Linked DNA regions of Homo sapiens. The protein of the gene in region 2 interacts with the protein of the main gene of each other region in a biochemical or structural test. Each region holds a gene or a part of one and is shown on either strand. Other genes may lie near its edges.

Region 1 (4,834 bases), on a different chromosome or scaffold from region 2:
CATTGCACTCCAGCCTAGGCAACAAAGCAAGACTCTGTCTCAAAATAAAATAAAATGCTAGGACAATTTCTGCCCATTTAAAAAAATAAACATATATAAAATATAAATGCATATATTATATTGATTAAATAAGAGTTGGTTAGCATGTACATATATGGAATCAGACATTTAATATTAAAAATATATACTACTGACACTGAGGATTCAGCAAAAGATATTAGATCAAGAATATCTCGAAAAATACTAATGAAGAGTTAAAAATAGACTATCCATTAGGAAACACTTCTCACATTCCAAAACAACTTGACATACATGAAGAATGCTCCTAAAAGATTTTAAGGAAAATTATCTCATCCATTAAGGGAAGGGTGGTAGTCTCATTAATCATAAAGTAAAAACAAGTAAATTTCCTCCATCAAGAATGTACCCTACAAATTATCCATTAACCCAGATGTTGTGCATGTGAGAACCCTCAATAGCTACCTCCCCTTCTGACAGGGTATCAAAATGAGGCTGAGACTACTGTTTGGAATAAAAATGAAACAGAGAGTAAGTGGGAGGTCTGTGCACACAGAGTAAAACTGTTAACGGCTTGACATTTTGTTTCAGTATTCCATGAGTTATTATACTCAAAGTGATGTAAGCATCAGAGCCCCAAACGTATATTCTAATGTTCCGTTCAACAAAATGTCCTGTATTAATTAAGCACTTTCAATAATAAAAGTATCGCAATTGAAAACAAAAAGTAAACTGTACTCAAAGCTATAAAAAGAACACTTAGTTTATGTAATAATTTTATGCCCTTTTAAAAATAGCTAAAACGCCTACATTTAACAGAATTCTTTTAAATGGCCTTCCTCTGCATAAAATTAGTATGCACTATTTTTTCCAAGCAAATCATGTCTAGATAACATCTTTCAAGGAAAAAGAATCTTATAAAATTTTACCCACATGACAGAGAAGTTGTCTTTTCCTCAAAAGAATGCCAGTTCTCAACATACAAGTTTTTCTCAGCCAAGGACTTACATTGTCACATATAGTACAATTCTGAAGTACCTAAATAGGATATGTTTCACTCTGAAATCATGATTATTAAGCTTTATCTATAGAAAAAGAAGACTGGTTTGCTATACTATCCTTGAAATAAAAATGCGGATTTTGACAACAAAAATACAAATTCTAAGCAAAGATGTAAATTGTTGTATACTCACACATCCACAAGTAGTACATAAGCTTTACTGTCTTTTGGAATTCTACAGGAATGTCTACAGAAAAATCCTGATAGAAACAAGGTCCGACAGGAAAATTGCTAGGAAGAGGTGGCCAATTATTTTTTCTACCTGTAAATTTTTTTTAGAAAAAGAAAAGGTTATTTATATTATAACAAATGTGATATTATTTTTTGTTTCATAATAAAGAAAAACTCTATTATGTTAACAAAAGTTCAGAAAAACTGTAGAACTATATCTTTGTATTCCTAGAACTCTGAAAGACAAGCTTTAGATTTTTAAAAAATTTTCTCAGAATATCATCACCTTAGAGCACATTAGATAGTAAAATAATTTTCCAGTGTCATATCATACCATGTTTAGCAGGAACCATTTATGTACAGAAAAAACAAGAAACAAAAAGAAAGCACATATCCAGTGCTTCTACCCTAAAACAGATTTATTTCACAGTCCAAAGAGTCTGGCTGGCATGAAAGGGCCATCCAGTTTTTAAACTTCAATTTTCTCCTCAGCATCTTAAATCTTCAAATATAATTCTGTTATAATTCCTATCTCAAGTGGAGAAAGACTAGCTTCTAATTTTTTCAAGTTTTCTGTTAAGTCCAAGATTAAACCAATACCAAAGAATCAAATTTAGAATACTCAAAATCTGGGAAAAAATAATATCCAAAAGATACATGTACGAAAACCCTACAACAAAGAAAACATGAAACAGTCATGATAAGGAAGCTGAAGAATTATAGAACCTTTAAAAATGCAGAGAAAAACAAATTCAAACTGTAAAGGGAAAAAAATGTGTCTACATAAAGAAACCAGATTAAAAATAAGACTTGAGAAATGGTGGGGGAAATAAAAAATTAAAATAAAGAAGTCAAAACATGAAAATAGCGGGTAAAAACAGCACCTAAGGCCATTTCCCGATTTTAGATGTTATATCCCACAGTTTTTAAAAATTCAATTTTACCTACTTTTCCCAGACCAGGGTAATTTTTATAGAAAGAACAATAACCTATTTCTGATTCTCCCCAATGAGTCTCCTGTGTTCCATTTATCATACTATTCAAATTTCATATAGTTCATTTCTCATACCAATCTCATACTATTTGAGAAGCGGCAGTGAATACTCGTAAAGAAGAGAGGCTCTGGAACCAGAAGTGGCTAGCCACTTACTGGCAAGGTCGCCTTGGGCAACTTACTCTCTCCTCCGAGCCTTAGTTTCCATATCTGTAAAATGAGAATAAAAACTCTATCACCCCTCACAGGATTGTATTGATGATTTAAGTATGAGTTAAGAGGGGAAAAGTACTAAAATGTGCTAACATACTGCAGTCTAATTGTTAATTTCCTACTCTTTGTTACTGTCTTTACTAACATAACTCTCATAGAAATAGTTTGTATTTGCCAGTGCTAAAGAAATAGGATGGATTTTAGTTACAGGTACTTCAGAAACATTGGTCCCAGTTCAACTTTTAGTTTCTCCTTCTATAGATGCTACCTCTGATGCTGCAAGCAAGAAAATGACCCAGGATAAATGTGTTCTCATGAGGCCCTAGACTTACACATTCTAAGTTAAAAAGAAATAGTTCTGTATATTGTTATTGTTCTAGCTTTGCATTGCATCACTATCCCAGACATCCTAACAATGACTTATCTAGCTCTTTTATCTCTTCTTACTCAGAGACTGCTAGCTTTCCCTAAGAGACTCCTTTGAAGTGCTTTGGCAGGCACAAACTTAATAGAATTCACTGCAACAATTCACCACTTATTTCTTTGGCATCATATGAATACCTTAGGCTTCCAATTTTTCTAACATGATTTGACAAAATACTTGCGAGGACTGGGGCAGATAATCTGAAATTAACCTGAATAAATCAGGTAAAAGTCAAATGTAGGGTACATGCAAATGTACTCATAAAGAGTCCACAGAACCAAGGAGGGCCTAACTGCAGAATCAAAGGCTCCTGGCCTCAGAGTAAGCAAAAATTATCATATTCACATTCATTTTCTGTGTGATGAGGCTAACACTGTTCTAAGCTATCAACAAAAGACTATGCAAATCAGCCAAGATTAGAAGGCTACAGAGTATCAAACAGGCAATCTGCTGTGTCTGATCTCCTTGTTAGAACAGGAAAACAGGGTAGGGTTTTATCCACAGGCCAAATGACCTAGGAGCTAGTATAGACATAATGTAAAGTATTTAAAAGTTATTTTTATTTCAAATTTCTTTGGATACTACCATGTTGACTGAGGTTTTGCATTTCTCGTTCCCGACGATCTAATTCTGCGGCTTTTCTTTCTAGTTCTTCCTGGCGCTTAAGAAGTTCAGCTTGGGCCAATGCATGTTCCTAAATAAAAAATATCAATATGTGAATAGACTGTCAGAAGTATAAAATACTTTAACATTTATATGCTAACTCCTACTTCTCTACTATGAGAGAAACCTAATTCAAACACACTTCCAAAGTACAGGAATTTACTGAAGATCATAGTTACAGAAAATATTATGAGGATATTTGGTCCATTTGGTCTTTGGGTTCCAGAAACTCTCAGTGGGAATGTTGGGTCCATTAGGAGAGGAAAACTTCTCTTAGTAAAAGTAGTCACAATCTTTAGGTAATCTGGAAAATGAAATTAAGATGACCTCTATGCCTAAATGAGTGAAGAACAGAGGCAATGGGAACAGTTGAGGAAAATGAACAATAGAAAAAAGGGCAACTGAATTGGCTCCTATTAATCAGATTAAATGATATATAAGGCCACCAATGCAAGAATATTTTCTAATATCTTAAATGTTATAGGAGAATGAGGTCAAAAGATGTGATTAAGAAATTCTTTATAACTCAATTTGCCCTTACATGCTATCAGGCATCTTATTAATCTCCTTTCTTCTCAGATTTTTGCCATCTTCTACCTCCTAACACTGTTATTTTACCATTGCAACGCTCTCCCAATAATATCTATTATTCCATCATTTTTACCTTAATGGTAGTGTGCATTAAAAAGTGGGACCAAAGGCAATAAAAATTTATCCACTGAGATGATACATAAATTCAATAATTCCTAATAATGGAATAAAGCAAATGGTATAAGCTGACAAAAAGAGGAATGAGTATTTGAAGGGTGACAAGACAGCAAATCCAGACTTGAAAGTGAGTTAAAAATTAAGCAACAGAAATGTAACCATATAAAGATTTATTTTGCTCTGAAAGCAAATGTTATTGATATTATAATGGCCAATATGAATTTATACAACTAACATGAACTAACCTTTGCAATCTGTGTATAAGCTGGATGTTCCTCTGTTGGTTTCATTATTGCTGGTTGTGTATTGGGTACATTAGGCATCTTCACACCGCCTGGTGGAGGCTAGGAGGATTAAGAGAAGGAAAATTATGTAACACAGAGATCCAACTTTAACTTCTTTCAAAAAGTATAACACCAATAAAATGAAAAATCCCAAAATCTGCATCTCTTCATTCCCTGCTCTCTCATAGTCAAGTGTGTGGCAAAGAGCTGCTTAAATTCTCCATCTCCATTTTCTCCAACTCATTCATTTTTCAACTCTACAATCAGACTGCTACTTATAACACTATATGACAAACACT
Region 2 (4,834 bases):
CACTTGAGTCCAGGAGTTTGACACCAGCCTGGGCAATAGAGTGAGACCCTGTCTCTACAAAAAATTTTTAAAAATTAGCCTAGCATGGTGGTTCATGCCTGTCATCCCTGCTACTTAGGAGGCTGAGGCAGGAGGATTGCTTGAGCCTGGGAGGTGGAGGCTGCAGTGAGCTGTGATTGCACCACTGTGCTCCAGCCTGAGTGACAGAGCGAGAACAACAAGAAAAAAGATAAATAAATAAAAAAAATAAAAAGAAAAAAGAATTAGAAGTTGACAGTACACATAGTAGTTAAGAGCCCAGACTTGGGAGCCAAACTGTTCCAGTCACACTCAAACATTTAACCAGCTACCACAACGAGTACCTAACTCACAATGAGATAATTCATATAAAAAGTACTAAAAGATGAAGGCCATATGGAGCCATTTAAACCTTGTACAGATAATGCTAGCATTTGACCCTCACTTCTTCGGTTATAATTAAGTTGAGACCATAATCTTTTAACTTACTCTGTGATTTTTTTTTTTTTGGAGACAGGATCTTGCTCTGTTGCCCAGGCTGGAATATAGTGGTACCATCATGGCTCACTGCAGCCTCGACCTCCCAGGCTCAAGCAATCCTCCTGCCTCAGCCTCCCGAGTAGCTGGAACTACAGGTGCATGCCACCATGCCTGGCTAAGTTTTGTATTTTTTTGTAGAGACAAGGTCCCACTATGTTGCCCAGGCTGGTCTTAGACTCCTGGGCTTAAGCGATCCTCCTGCCTCAGCCTCCCAAAGTGTTGGGATTCCAGGCCTGCAGCACCATGCCCACCGGTGATTTTTATTGGGTTGAGGGAGAGACAGGTAGTTTCTTGGAATCATTGGGCTGAGACTATTCTTTTCCAGGCCCAAGCAGAAACAGAAGGCTGGCTGAAGAAATGATTCATTCAACATGACTGCATCCCTTTGCCTACTTAATAAGTGGTACAAAAATGCCACCCAAAGGGACCTGGCCCATTCTGCGGCTCCTGTTGTGGGCTAACATCCTTGTTCCATTGGCCAGTTTCATCCATTGCCAGCACAGCTTTTTGCCAAGGACTGAAGAACTATGCTGAGGCTCTTAAACACACCCCTCTCCACAGTCACCTGCTTTGGAAAGCAGAAGATGGACGTGTTTGCCCAGGGCAGCTGGCACAATTCTAGACCAAGCATGCTCTGTCCACATGCAATGAGACGCCTCCAGAAGACTCCTCCAGGGGAGACAGAGCCTCGTCTTGTGCCAGCCAGCCTCATCTCTCAGGAGGGAAACCGAAGGAATCCTGGCACCAAGTCCCCAGGTAAGAAAACATTAACCCACGCAAACGAGTGCCAGGGAAGGAGGAATAACCACAGGGCCGCGTTCCACTCACCATCTGGTGAGAACTGGTCCCTCTCGAACACAGTGATGCAGAGGACTTCCTGCTCCAGGTCTCGGATGAAGAACTGGCAGTTGGAATTCCACTTGGGGTTCAGAGTGTCCTGGATCGTCTTGGTGATGTGGCACTGGGAACCCATGGTCACCTCACAGTACGGGTTGCTCTTTCCTGGAGGGAACAAAAGCCTTCGCCAGGTGGAACTCACACCTCATTTTGATCTCCACTCTTTTTTTTTTTTTTTTTTAGATGGATTCTTGCTCTGTCGCCCAGGCTGCAGTGCAGTGGTATGATCTCAGCTCATTGCAACCTCCACCTCCTGAGCTCAAGTGATTCTCCTGCCTCAGTCTCCTGAATGAATAGCTGGTATTACAGGTGGCTGCCCCCATGCCTGGCTAATTTTTTATATTTTTAGTAAAGACGGGCTTTCACCATGTTGGCCAGGCTGGTCTCAAACTCCTGACCTCAGGTGATCCACCTGCTTTGGCCTCCCAAAGCACTGGGATTACAGGTGTGAGCCACCATGCCCGGCCGCTCCCCACTCTTAATAACTGCTATGCTTAATAAGTGTCATTCGGTGGAGAATCCGGGTGGAAACTCCCAGAAGTCAGCTTCATCCTTAAACTAAAAACAAATACTTAATTGAGTGGGCTTTGAAACTAGGCCCTTCCTGTCTCGTTACTTTGGCCTGATCTTGTGTCACATCCACTGTGAATGCAGCCACTCAGATCCCTCGGAGAAGCAGAATGGTAGAAAGGATGGAAAAAAAAACACAAAACCTCCAGGTTTTTAACAAGTGCTAGTTAAACCAATTCTGGAAGGAGATCAGGGAGTATGGAAATAGCACATTTGATCTAGAGCCAGGTGGGGGTGTGGGGAACCCGGACCCTACTCCCAACCCCAAAGCAGGAGCCGGGGGCGCCTCACAGCCTTACCATGTGACCGACAGGGTTTCAACTCGATGCCTTCAACCACGTTCACCATCAACCTTCCAATGCCTGTTGCCCTTTGGGAACGGACTATGACGGCAGGAAAAACACAAAATGCTTCATTTGAACGTGCCACACCTTTCCCATCTCTGTGAGCCTCACAATGCATTTCATGTACCTCTCCCGACTCAAAAGTAATTCTTCCCTCTCCTTAAACACTTGCTTCCTTGCTCCTGGAATTTGCCCTCCATCCCCATCTGCATCCCACCCCAAGCTCACTTCCATCTCATTCCATGCCCCTCCTCTAGGTCCAGGGGATTCTTCTATTCTGAGGATTTTCAGCCCAGCCAAATGGCCCTCCCTCCTGCCCAGCTGTGCAGGACACCCCGCGGGGCCATGCATTACCCAGGTACGCTTTCTCGCGCTTCTTTTTCTCAGTCTCTATGTAGAGTTCAGAAGCAGCTTTGATTTTCTGCACCCAGGCAGTCCTTGGACAGAAAAAGACAGAAAGTTGCCAAACAGAAACTCAGGAAAAAGGCTTCAGGTCTGTTCAAACACTGTTGCCAGGACTCTGTTTCTTTGTTCATTTGATTTTAACAACAAAGGCTCGGGAAAGAAAATCTGATTTTATGTCACGTGACGCTAATACTTATTCCTGCCATCGATAAGAAAGGCATGAGGGCCATTTCCATGGATGTCCTCAAGACCTGCGATGATGTCCCCGGGGAAGAAAATCTGTGATAGATGCTGTCTTGGAGGCAACATCGGGACACGACTCCTCTTCCTTCCTTACCGAAGAGCAGCACATATTTGCCTAATCCAACAAAGCCAGAAGGATCTCGCTTATGAAATCACGCAAAGAAAGAACAAAAACCACTTCCCAGATTGGGAACCACTTCACACGAAAGACCAAAACGCCTTGGGGGAAGGCATTTGTGGCCGCGGTTTTCTCCTTCATTTTTTCTGAGAACCATATGCACAAAAGCTTTAGCCAATTTTCTTGCTTGGTGCAAATGCTCTTTGGAATGATGCTGGCCTTGTGTCAAGTTCACCCTTCAGAAAATGATCTATTTCATTTGGCTCCAGGGCAGTGTCTTGAAGACAGATTGAAGCAAAATACCCACAGCCCTAGGTTCCAGAATGCCCATTTAAGTCAGCCAAGGTGAGGAGAGGTTTGGGTTTGCGTGGTCCTATTAACCCCGAAATTACTTTCCTATTGGTTTCTGCCACCTGGGAAGCCAGGGGAAACCTGAGATGCTCTGTTTACCTCAAAGAATGCGAAACATTTCTTAATAAAACAACAACAACAACAACAACAATGCCAGGTGCAGTGGCTCACCCCTGTAATCCCAGAATTCTGGCATTCTGGGAGGCCAAGGCGGGTGGATCCCTTGAGCCCAGGAGTTTAAGACCAGCCTGGGCAACATGGCAAGAACCCATCTCTACAAAAAAATATAAAGAATTAGCCAGGCTTGGTAGCACATGCCTGTAGTCCCACATACCTGGGAGGCTAGGGTGGGAGGATTACCTGAGCCCAGGAGGTTAAGGCTGCAGTGAGCTGTGACTGCACTACTGCACTCCAGCCTGGGTGACAGAGTGAGACTCTGCCTTAAAAAAAAAAAAAAAAAAAAAAACTCAAGCAAAATTAGTTTGAATCCATGTTATTTTGGAAAGGGCATGCCATGTGACAGATTTTTGAGAGGCTGTAGAAAAAAGTAATAGCCCCATCCCCACTCCCAGCTAGGGGTGATGGCATTGCCACTTGGGAAACATTGGCACCTGATTAATCACCCGCCCCTTGTGTGTCCTAGAGCCGTGGAGCCCTGGGGCCCATGCTGGGGAGGCGGCAGGTCTCACCTTTCATTTATGCTTTCTGCTCGGAGAGTATAGACGCGGTCAATGTGGGAGATGTGGAAGATGGGCTCGTCTCCAGAAGGGTCGGTGGGTAATTTTACTAGAACCTCATTTAGGAAAATAGGCTGGAAAGTAACACACAGGCATTACAAAGCGAGGCTGGGGGTCTGTGTGCTCCGGTAAACCGTGAGTGTGTGAGCACACTTATGCCAATGTGTTCTAGTAAACGAGACTGCAAGTCAGCGCGTGTGTGCACACTCGTGCGTGTGTTTCAGTAACCTAGACTGAGCATGTGTGTGTGTTTCTGGGTGTGTTCCAGTAAACCAGACTAAGGGCGTGTGTGTTTTCCAGTAAAGAATCCCAGAATAATAATTTTGGGTTAGCATCAACTTTTACATATTACAAATTATAAATATGATAAATATGGGTTCCCCCGCCCACGATTTTGCGGGTATGTTTTAAGTCTTTCAGAATAAGATCTGGCTGGTGTCGCTTTTCCTGGTGTATTCTAAACAGCAGTTTTCATCCACTTTACATCAAGCAATTCCCTCCAAAGATTTTCACATGAAGTTTCTAGTAACTATATAACTACATAGCTCTTTTTTTTCCCATAATAAAGCTAACTGCTGCCTCAGAGAAAATTCTTCTGTAAAAACACCCCC
Region 3 (4,834 bases), on a different chromosome or scaffold from region 2:
GGCATGGAGGATGTCACCAATCCCACCCAAGCACTGGGCTTCCCACTTTTCGTTAATCCCCTCTGCCTCCACAACACTCCCCACTCCCCACTCCTCCCTCTCTCTGGCAGGCATGCCCCTCGCAGACTGTGACTATAATGCCAGCCACCAAGACAATACCTTAATCCTGCCCCCTCTCCAGGTGATGAAGCACTCACTCATCTCTATCCCATCCCACCTGCATCACTGCAAAATAATTCATTCCCCCAGAAAACTCCTACTCATCCTCCAAAACCCTGCTCAGATGCCCCTCTTCCAGGAAGCCTTCCAGAAAGAGCTCTGCTCCCCACCCAGGGTTCCCTAAGCCACACCCATCTCTCTGTCTCAGCCCTAACCACCCAGGCTGTAGGTCTTTTCACGATTGGCAAGGGACAGCTATGTCCTCAGCATCTCTGGGCATGGGGAGGGCATTTGTGATGGCTTTCCAGGGAGTGAGGGTGCAGACTGGAGTGGCCCAGGCAGGGTTGGGGTCAGGAGGGCAACGGGAAGGAGACCCCCCAAGTGCTTGGGGAGTGAGGTGGGTGGCCGGGCTGGGCTGGGCCAGGCCTGCTCTCTGCCTCTCCTCTGCTTTCTTTTCCTCCTTAGCACTGGTCACAACCTTCCTGGCTATGCCTGCCTAATCGTGTTAGGAACCTACGTCTTACTAATCATATTATGCTCATGATCTGTCTCCCCTAGAGAAGGTCAGTACCACAAGGGCTGGGCTTGGGGGGTTTTTGCTCACAGCGGTATTCCCAGTGCCTTCTCCAGTGCAATTTCTCGGTGCCTGTTTGTAGAGTCAATGAATGGATGCACGTGTGCATGAGCAAAGGGGTCCAGGCCCCCAGGAGGTACAGTCAAAATTGGGGCCCCCTAGATCCAGGGATTAGAGAAAACAGGGACCCCAGGATGGGAGCCTGGAATAAAAATCCTAAAGTCACATGGGCCACCAGAGCGGGAGCAGCCCCCATTTAAGAGCCAGGCCCTGGCCGGGGGCCCTCAGACCTTTGTTCACTGAATGAGTAAGGGAGGGGTCCTTTCTCCCCGAGGCTCCTTCGTGGCCACTCTGGCCACAGCAGGGCTACCTCTCCAGCCTCACCCACCCTCCCACCCACCCGCCTCTGGCTGTCTCCACCTCTCTGTCACTGGAGCTGCACTCACCCAGGCTGAAGAGGATGATGAACTTGAGGCAGACAAACTCCTGCCGGTCCAGCTGCAGCGCAAGCAGCTGCAGCACCAGCTCCTGCGCCCGCAACACCAGGCTGTGCAGCAGCGAGCCCGCCTGGGTGGCCACTGTGGTCAGCTCCACCTGGGGGCAGAGGGCACGGGGCGGGGGACAGTCAGAGGACGTGGGTCCGGGCAGGTGGCTCTCTGATGGGGGATGCAGGGCTGAGGGCATGGATTGGAGGTGCAGGTCAGATGGGCTGGCGTCAGGAGGGCCCAGCCTTGGTGCCGAGCCAGGCACGGGTAACATCTGCACAGCCCCGGGGACGCTGCCGGGCCCACCCTTCCGAGCTCTCCTCAACCCGCCAAGCCCGGAGCTGAGGCACCCACGTTCTGCCCGCGTCCACCCCTCCTTCACACACAAACCCCAGCACCAGGCCCAGCAGCACCAGCAGCTCAGGGGGCCCCTCTACATGCTGGGAGGGGAGGGGTTGGGGAGGGCAGGCCTGTGTGGGGACACACAGACACATCCACATGGCTTCCCAGAGCCCCCATGTTCACACCTACACGCTGGGTCACAGCTCAGCTCAGAGTCACACACACACACACACGAGCACAGTCATGGGGTCGCCCACTCTGTGAAGTGAAGGCACACACGTGTGCACACGGCCACACCCGCCCTTGTACGCTCACACTCACGGCAACACATACACCCATGTATGTGATCACATTTACGGGTTGATGGGAAGACAGTGACACCCACACACTGATGTGTGTGGAGATTTTGCACAATAAAACACAGGCAGGCACACACACACACACACACAAACAGGCATTCCCATGGCCACAGAGACTCAGCCAGCCTGCGGACACCCACACTTCATGCAGACTGCAGGCACCTGCGCTCACAGGGAGCCCCAAAGACACCCCCCTGGGACCAGTGCTGCCCGTCCCGTCCTCCTGCCCCGATGGCCTGTGACACCGAGGAGAGAGCTGGAGATGAGCAGTGGGGGCCTGGGAGGGCTGGAGCTGGGAGCAGAGTCTGTCTTCCCCACCCCACAGCACCCACCGACCCCACGGCCCTTCCTGTGTCCCCACCTGAGAGTGGCACTCCTGCCAGCAGGCTGGACCCTGGCCATCAACCCCCTTCTCTGCCTCCCCCCCTCCCTCTCTTTCCCTACAGCCCATCTCTCCAGGTGAGTCTTCCTCCGTGGCTGTGCCCCCGTGTCCCCACCCTGGCCCCCCACCTCCCATCCTGACCCCTCCGCCTGCCTCCTCAGATACCACCTGGCCATGTCCCTCCTCCTCCTAAAGCTCTCCCCGGACCCCTGCTGCATCTGGACTTTCTACTCCCCAGATCCTCATTCCCTGCTCTAAGGGGGCCCAAATTCCGACTCTGAGCTCTCTGGAGCCCTTTGCCCATTCATTCATTCATTCATTCATTCGAGATTTAGGGCCTGCAAGGTTTGCCTGCTAAGCCAGCACTAGCAACCCCCTAGCCTCCCTCATCTCTCACCTCATGCCACCCCCACACCGGCACCAGCAGGGCCCGGGGGCTCCACACTTCCACCCTCTCTGAGCCTGCGGTAGACGTGGGGACTGCCCCCCTCATCCCTCATTCCCCAGCCAACTCCAGTGTGTTATTTCCAGACCCAGGGCCACCATCACCTCCTCCTCCATGAGCCTCTCCTCACCATGCCCACACCCCCTGAGCTGCTCCCCAAGAGCAGGGCTCCCAGGGGCCGGCGCCTCTCAAGCCTGGGCCAGGGCTGCTCACAGAGGGTTTGGGCCAGTGGGTGTTCCATGAACGTGGGGAAAGGGCTGATAATTAGGGTGCCCAGAGCCAGCCCCGAGAGGCCTGGGTCCTCCTCTCCGGGGCCCTGAATCCTGGAAGTGCACAGCGGGGCCAGGGCGGGGCCCAGGGGCGGGGCCGAGGGACTGGTCACCTCCTGCCCGGTGACCAGCAGGATGCTGCCCTCCTTGCCGTGCTGGACCTGGCGGTAGATGTGGTCGAACACCAGCAGCTCGCTCCAGCAGTTCTGCAGCAGCGTCATCTGGTCGGCCACCTGGAAGGAAGAGGCACGCGGGGGGCCGGGCTCCAGCCAGGGTCCAGGGACCTTCCTCTCACCCCTTCTCCTCCCACTGAGACCCAACTAGGCGTGCAGCCTGGGCAAGCTAACCTCTCTGTGCCCATCTACCCAGATGTCTAGGCTATCAAAGTGCAACAGAGGTCTGGCCAGTTAACAAAGGGATGTTTGGGGGTTGAATGGGCCAGGCTTCAGGCCCCACCTCTGTCTTTTGTATGACTTTACGTAAGTCCTGGTAACCTTTCTGTGCCTCAGTTTTCTCATCTGTAAAGTGGGCAAAGTACTGAGCGGACAGTCCAGTACATGTTAGGTATGCCATACATGTTAGTGACTAATGTCCATGCAGGTGCTCTGCAAAGGACTCCTACAAATGCCTGGCAAGGTTATTATTAATTTTAACCTTGTCCACATTTAAAAGCCTGTGGTCGGTCACACCTCTGGCAGCCCCAACTGCTCAAACAGGAGCCATGAGGGAGAAACCAAGGGCTTCCCCCCCGGGCCTACGCAGAGCTCTCAGGCTCAGGAGGAGGAGGGAGGTCCCACCTGGCCTGAGGTCAGGCCCAGGGCATGAGCAGGGGGGCGGCAATGGCCTGGCACATGAAGCAGAAACGAACAGCAACAAGGGGCTGATTCCGAATGCCCAGGCTGCGGCCAGAGACACTCGGTGCAGGGGCAGGGCCAGCCCCTGTTTGGAGTGTCCTTTGACTCTGCAGGACTCAGAAGCAGAGCCAGGGATCCCCTGGCCCCAATCCCTATTTTTCAGCTGAGGAATCCGCCACCCGGAAAGGGCAAGAGACTCTCCCGGGATCACACAGAGGCAGGGCCAGGCCAGGGCCACGGCTGGCATTCCCGGTCCACAATCTCCACTGTGACAAAACGAGCCCTTCTGGGTATTTGGAAGCACACTGGGCACTGCAGATGGGCCTGGGCAGACACAGCCCCATCCCTCTCAGCCCGTGCCACTCACCAGCTGGCCACCATCGACCCAAAAGACACTTCTGGCGCACCTTCCTGGGCCGTGCCCTATGGCAAATGCAAACCATGACAGCTGACAGTCATTCCACTGCAGCCCTACAGCCCTGCGAGTTTCGTATAGTCGCCACCCACATGATAGAGAGAAGAAACTGAACAGAGAGGCCACACAGCTCTGTCTAGTTCCAGATTTGCGCTCTTAACCACTAGGTGTGGAAGAGGACCTCTCACTCACCCTCCTTGCCATCCAGGAGTTCCTGGTCTCTCACAGGCTCCTTGCCTCCTCTACAGATCCTCTACCTGATCCCTCTCCTTCCTCGAGGCCCTCTCCACCCTCTGGATGCAGAATCTGCAACATCTCATGGCATCAGTTAAATGCCTCTGTCTTCACCAATACCTGTGAGGTCTGGGGAGGCAGAACTGGTGTTCAGCTCTTCTCTGGGCCCCAGAGCAGTGGTCAGAGGGGCTGATGACTGGCAAGGTGCTCCCCAAGACAAGCACAGAGAGCAGAGGGACCACTGCCCACCTGGGGCCAGAGACACAGAGAGGCCACTCCCCACCTGGGGCCAGAGACTCAGAGGGGCCACTCACCA
Region 4 (4,834 bases), on a different chromosome or scaffold from region 2:
ATAAACACACCAAAATAGGAATTGAGCTTTTGGCAAATTAGTCATTAAGTCATTAACTTTAAGCAAACAAGTTTTCAGTAAATTGGTTTTAAGAGATCTAGCTTTAGGTGAACTAGTTTCAAGCAAACTGACTAGTATCAAATCAGTGTTTTGCTCCCTCCAGTTCCCCCCAACTCTAGTTTTGGGATTGTGATGGATGCAATCCGGGACCCCTCTGAGAGGTGGCAAGTGAGCTTCTACTAGGAAACCAAGTGTACAAGTGACCTGAGAAGAGAGTAAGAAAGAGTGAGAGAGAGACAGAGAGACAAGAGAGAGAGTGTGTGTGTGCATGAACACACCCACACATGCATACACTGGGCTATATGGCTCAGTGCACCTAAACTTGGGAATGTGGCTAAGCTGAAGCTTCCTAGACATCCCCCCAACAAGCTCCACACCCACAGAGATCTGCTCATTACCTCCCCCAGCCAAGGAGAAGAGCAACCACGTACAATCACCTACCTAGCCTCCCCAGACCCATGTAAGTTCCTGAGAAACAGGGAATACAGGCAGCAACCCCACTCAGAGCTGGTCCCCATTCTCAGACAGATAAGGAGCTCTCCTAGTCCTTAGAAGAAGGCCAAGAAATAACTCATTAATGAGGTCCAGAGTTTCTACCTCTTCATCCAGATATAGGTGCGGGACCCCATATCTGACACCATGTGTCACAAAAAGTGAGGAGCTTAAATTTGGTTGCCTAGCAGGAACTCACCACCCTAGACTTGCTACCTCTCAGGGACATCCCACACTGCATCAACCACAACCCCAAAACTCTGGGGTTTGGGGGAGCTGGAGGGAGAATTACACTTTGATTTGGTTCTAGTCAGTTTAGCTGAAACTAATTGATTTAAAGCTAGGTCCTCTACTCCTGGAATCCAGGACCAGAACATTGCGTGACTCATGCATAATCATACACTAGGCCAGACACAGTGGCTTACGCCTATAATCCCAGCACTTTGGGAGGCCAAGGTGGGAGGATCATTCGAGCCCAGGAGTTCAAGACTAGCCTGGGCAACATGGTGAGATCCCATCTCTAAAACAAACAAAATATATATACTGAAGATACAGAATCAGATGTTCAGAAAGTCCTGGAACCCTCCTGTGTGTGCCTAAGCTCAGACTGCACACATGGGAAAAAGGCCAGTCGCCCCCACCCTGGTAAATATAAGGTTTCTCTTCCACAATCCATTTGGAATATCATGATCTTTGGGTCTCCGGCCCTTGGGGTCCTCCCCAGAGGACTCTTCTGCCAGGCCTGCAGAGTGCATTCTTTGCCTTGGCTGGCCTCAGAGGGGCCCACTGGCCACAGCAGTTTGTCTGCAGGGTGACAGCAGCAGCAGTGATTGCAGCTCAGATATAGTTGGCAGGGGGTTGTCGGGCATTGAGCCGCTGCATGTGGCAACCATGGCAGAGCAAGTGCCCATCCAGAGGGAAACAGCAGCAGCCTTCCTCATCACTCAGCTGCATCCGGCAGTCCTAGGGAAGAAGGCACCTAGTTCACCTCAGCCTAGGCACCTTGGACACTGAGGGTATCTTAGGAGTCTGCCCTGCTCAACACCTGACTCCTAATAACTGGAAGAAAGGGATGGGGTGGGAAGGGAAGGATGGAAGGGATGGAAGAGCAATCTGAGAAAATACTAATACCTCAGCTGGACACCAGGTGTCACTGCTGCAGCAGAAATAATGACACAAGCCTGTCTTTCAAGAAGTTTGACCAGAGTCCCTAGTCTTAGAAAGTCCTGACTCTGGGAGAGTCAGATTCAGAAAGGACTAAGCTACTTGGACCAGAGAGAGTGGCTGGAGGACAAAAAAGAGACTGAAGATAGGTCACAATATCTTTCTGGTTTCCCATGCCCTACACCTCTCCCATAGATGTCTGGTTGTTGCAGGACTTGACTCCTCCCCTCTCCCCATTTCCACTTCTTCTCCAGCACCGCTGAACCCCAACACTCACCTCACAGTGGTAGCACTCAAAGTGATAATCCCGGTCCATGGATATCACCCTCACGATGTCCTCACAGCCCTGAAACATGCAGACCCCCATGGAGATGAGAGCAGCATGTTGCCTCACCTCCACCTTTCCCTCATATACAACCCTTCCCACCCCATGGGAAGATCATACAAATGCCCCCAGAGTCTCTCTGCAATCACCTGTAGTTTTAAGATGCTTCTGCAAATCCTACCAGAACTCTCATCTCCTTCACTGGGCTGCACCCATGGAGCACACTCCCTCTGTACAACAGCCCTGGCCTTACCTGCGTCTCTCAGTTGTGCAGGAAGCAAAGGGAAGGGAAGGGGACAGGAGGCCTAAATAAAGTAGGCTAGGCTGGGAACAAGGGGATCCAATAAGATCTGGTCCTCACTGGCTTTTGGTTTCTCTCCATAGGCACATCCCCTACACTCAGCTTAAATCATTTCTGACCCCTTCCTACCAGTGCTGAGGATTCTTCCCACCTTTTTCCAGCCCCTACATCTGCAGTCTGGTGACCTCGACCTCAAAGAAAGTCTCCTCCTCTGGACTGGGATAGAAGAGATGGAGCCTGGGCCCAGTTAGGCTTTCAGACATGTCCAGGCCCGGATATTAGGGTCAGGGTGGTGACCCCAAGAGGCAGAGTCACACGGGAATCTTCACAGAGTACATTCCTTGGCACTACCACTTCTGGCAGGAGGCCAGGCAGCATGTCCCTATCCCCTCCCCAAAGGCAGTGGCACTGGCTGCCCTGAAGGAGAACCCAGACATACTGACCTCAGAGGGGAGGATGGGTTGGCCACAGGCTGCACACTTAGGAGCATAATTTCTGAAAGAGAGAGGGAAGAGATGAGCTGAGGCTGGGGAATCCCTGGACCCAGTTCCACACTGCATCCCAAGGGGCAGACTCACTTGTGGTAGTCGGTGACACAGTATACTTGGTTGGAGAAGTCCACTGTGAAGGGGATGCCATCCAGGCACTTGTTGCAAACAATGCATCGGAAACAGCCTGGATGATAGGACTTCCCCATTGCTTGTAGGATCTGGCTCATGGGGTAGCAAGAGAATCAGTCTCCCTCCAGTCCCAGCTCTCCAGCTGCCCATTATGCTCCTTATTACTCCCATTAACCTCATCCAACCCGCTGCTATACTCCCAGAACAATGCTATGTAATGTCGGTGAAGAAGTCGTAAAATGGAGGCGGAGACCCTGAAAAGTGCCTGAGAGAGCATTCAGGCCAGCAGTGTTTCACTCTGGCTGCATATCAGGATCACCTAGGCAGCTTTTAAAAAACATCAATGCTTTGGCCCTCCTCCAGGCCTATTATCACAATCTGTGGTGATGGGATCCAAACACTGTTTTTTGTTTTGTTTTGTTTTTTAGTTCTTCCCAGCTGATCTGCTAGGCTACCATGATTGAGAATCACTGATTTAATCCTATCTTTTGTTTTTACAGAAAAGAAAACTGAGTCCCAAGTGATTCTAACCAGTAGCAGAAAGGGGATTAAGACTCAGGACTGGCCGGGCGCGGCGGCTTACGCCTGTAATCCCAGCACTTTGGGAGGCCGAGGTGGGCGGATCACAAGGTCAGGAGATCGAGACCATACTGGCTAACACAGTGAAACCCCGTCTCTACTAAAAACACACCAAAAAATTAGCCGGGCATGTGGCGGGCGCCTGTAGTCCCAGCTAGGCAGGAGAATGGCGTGAACCAGGAGGCGGAGCTTGCAGTAAGCCGAGATCGCACCACTGGACTCCAGCCTGGGCAACAGAGTGAGACTCCATCTCAAAAAAAAAAAAAAGAAGACGACTCAGGACCCCAGGCTGGGCATGGTGGCTCACGCCTATAATCTAGCACTTTGGGAGGCTGAGGCAGGAGGATCACTTGAGGCCAGGAATTCGAGACCAGCCTGGCCAACATGGCAAAACCTTTTATCTACTAAACATACAAAAATTAGCCAGGCATGGTGGCGCATGCCTGTAGTCCTAGCTACTTGGGAGGCTGAGGCACTAGAATCACTTGAACCTGGGAGGCGGAGGTTGCAGTGAGCCGAGATCATTCCACTTTGTCAGAGCGAGACTCTGTCTCAAAAAAAAAAAAAAAAAAAAGACTCAGGACCCCACACTCCTAGCTCAGGCTGGAAGGCCTGGCTGTGCCTGCAGAGTTAGGGAGGGGCTAGGTCATAGAAGCCTGGGTTGACAGGCTTTTGAGCCCAGACTTGATCCCATAGGCAGAGGGAAGCCACTGTAAACAGTTGCTCTGGGGAGGAATGGGATGAAAGTGATTCATCTGGTGACAGGCTTCTTTCCCCAACCTTCTCTCAATATCCATTTAGTCCCTGATCCCGCTCCTCAGCCTCACAGTGAGACTTCTCAGCTGAAAGCACTTTACTTACCTTCTCCAAAATCAAGTGACCACAGACACAGCATTTCTCAGCTGCCTCCTGAAACCCTGAAAACTAAAGTAAAAGACAAGACGAACGGAGGCTGTTATCAAACTGAGAATGATGGGTGGTACTCCAATGGGCCACCAAGAAGGGGGTCAGTATGGAAACCAATTCCAGGTCCAGGTGACCCTTACTCACCAGATAATCTTCCTCACAGTACACAGAGCCATTGACACTGTAGAAAGCCTTGCAACGCAAAGTTCGCCCTAGAAACAATAGAGAAGGGGCTGGAACCTATCCCACAGCCCAGGTGCAAGACTTCTGGGGTCACTGCTCCCCGCTGCTGCATAATATATTTAAACCTGGACTTTGTGCTTTTCCTCCTAACTGCTGTCTGTCCTTCCCCGCACAAAAATTCCATCTGATGCAATTCCAATTTGC

What was found.
Region 1: the proteins of ITSN1 (region 2) and SCAMP1 form a complex in vitro, tested with the Homo sapiens proteins (one study listed by BioGRID).
Region 3: the proteins of ITSN1 (region 2) and NR5A1 interact in a surface display test, tested with the Homo sapiens proteins (one large-scale study listed by IntAct).
Region 4: the proteins of ITSN1 (region 2) and AJUBA interact in a test that uses a peptide from one of them, tested with the Homo sapiens proteins (one large-scale study listed by BioGRID).

What each region holds. Positions count from the first base shown.
Region 1 is NC_000005.10:78,415,281-78,420,114, reverse strand, and holds part of SCAMP1 (secretory carrier-associated membrane protein 1), read right to left. Parts: intron 4,596-4,834; coding exon 4,497-4,595; intron 3,575-4,496; coding exon 3,466-3,574; intron 1,341-3,465; coding exon 1,212-1,340; intron 1-1,211. UniProt on the Homo sapiens protein: Functions in post-Golgi recycling pathways. Acts as a recycling carrier to the cell surface.
Region 2 is NC_000021.9:33,883,013-33,887,846, reverse strand, and holds part of ITSN1 (intersectin-1), read right to left. Parts: intron 4,298-4,834; coding exon 4,176-4,297; intron 2,807-4,175; coding exon 2,724-2,806; intron 2,409-2,723; coding exon 2,325-2,408; intron 1,561-2,324; coding exon 1,387-1,560; intron 1-1,386. UniProt on the Homo sapiens protein: Adapter protein that provides a link between the endocytic membrane traffic and the actin assembly machinery. Acts as a guanine nucleotide exchange factor (GEF) for CDC42, and thereby stimulates actin nucleation mediated by WASL and the ARP2/3 complex.
Region 3 is NC_000009.12:124,489,902-124,494,735, forward strand, and holds part of NR5A1 (steroidogenic factor 1), read right to left. Parts: intron 3,249-4,834; coding exon 3,129-3,248; intron 1,328-3,128; coding exon 1,180-1,327; intron 1-1,179. UniProt on the Homo sapiens protein: Transcriptional activator. Essential for sexual differentiation and formation of the primary steroidogenic tissues. Binds to the Ad4 site found in the promoter region of steroidogenic P450 genes such as CYP11A, CYP11B and CYP21B.
Region 4 is NC_000014.9:22,972,054-22,976,887, forward strand, and holds part of AJUBA (LIM domain-containing protein ajuba), read right to left. Parts: intron 4,790-4,834; exon of another isoform or gene 4,660-4,789; coding exon 4,592-4,659; intron 4,466-4,591; coding exon 4,403-4,465; intron 3,052-4,402; coding exon 2,921-3,051; intron 2,838-2,920; coding exon 2,786-2,837; intron 2,063-2,785; coding exon 1,994-2,062; intron 1,516-1,993; coding exon 1,390-1,515; 3' UTR 1-1,389.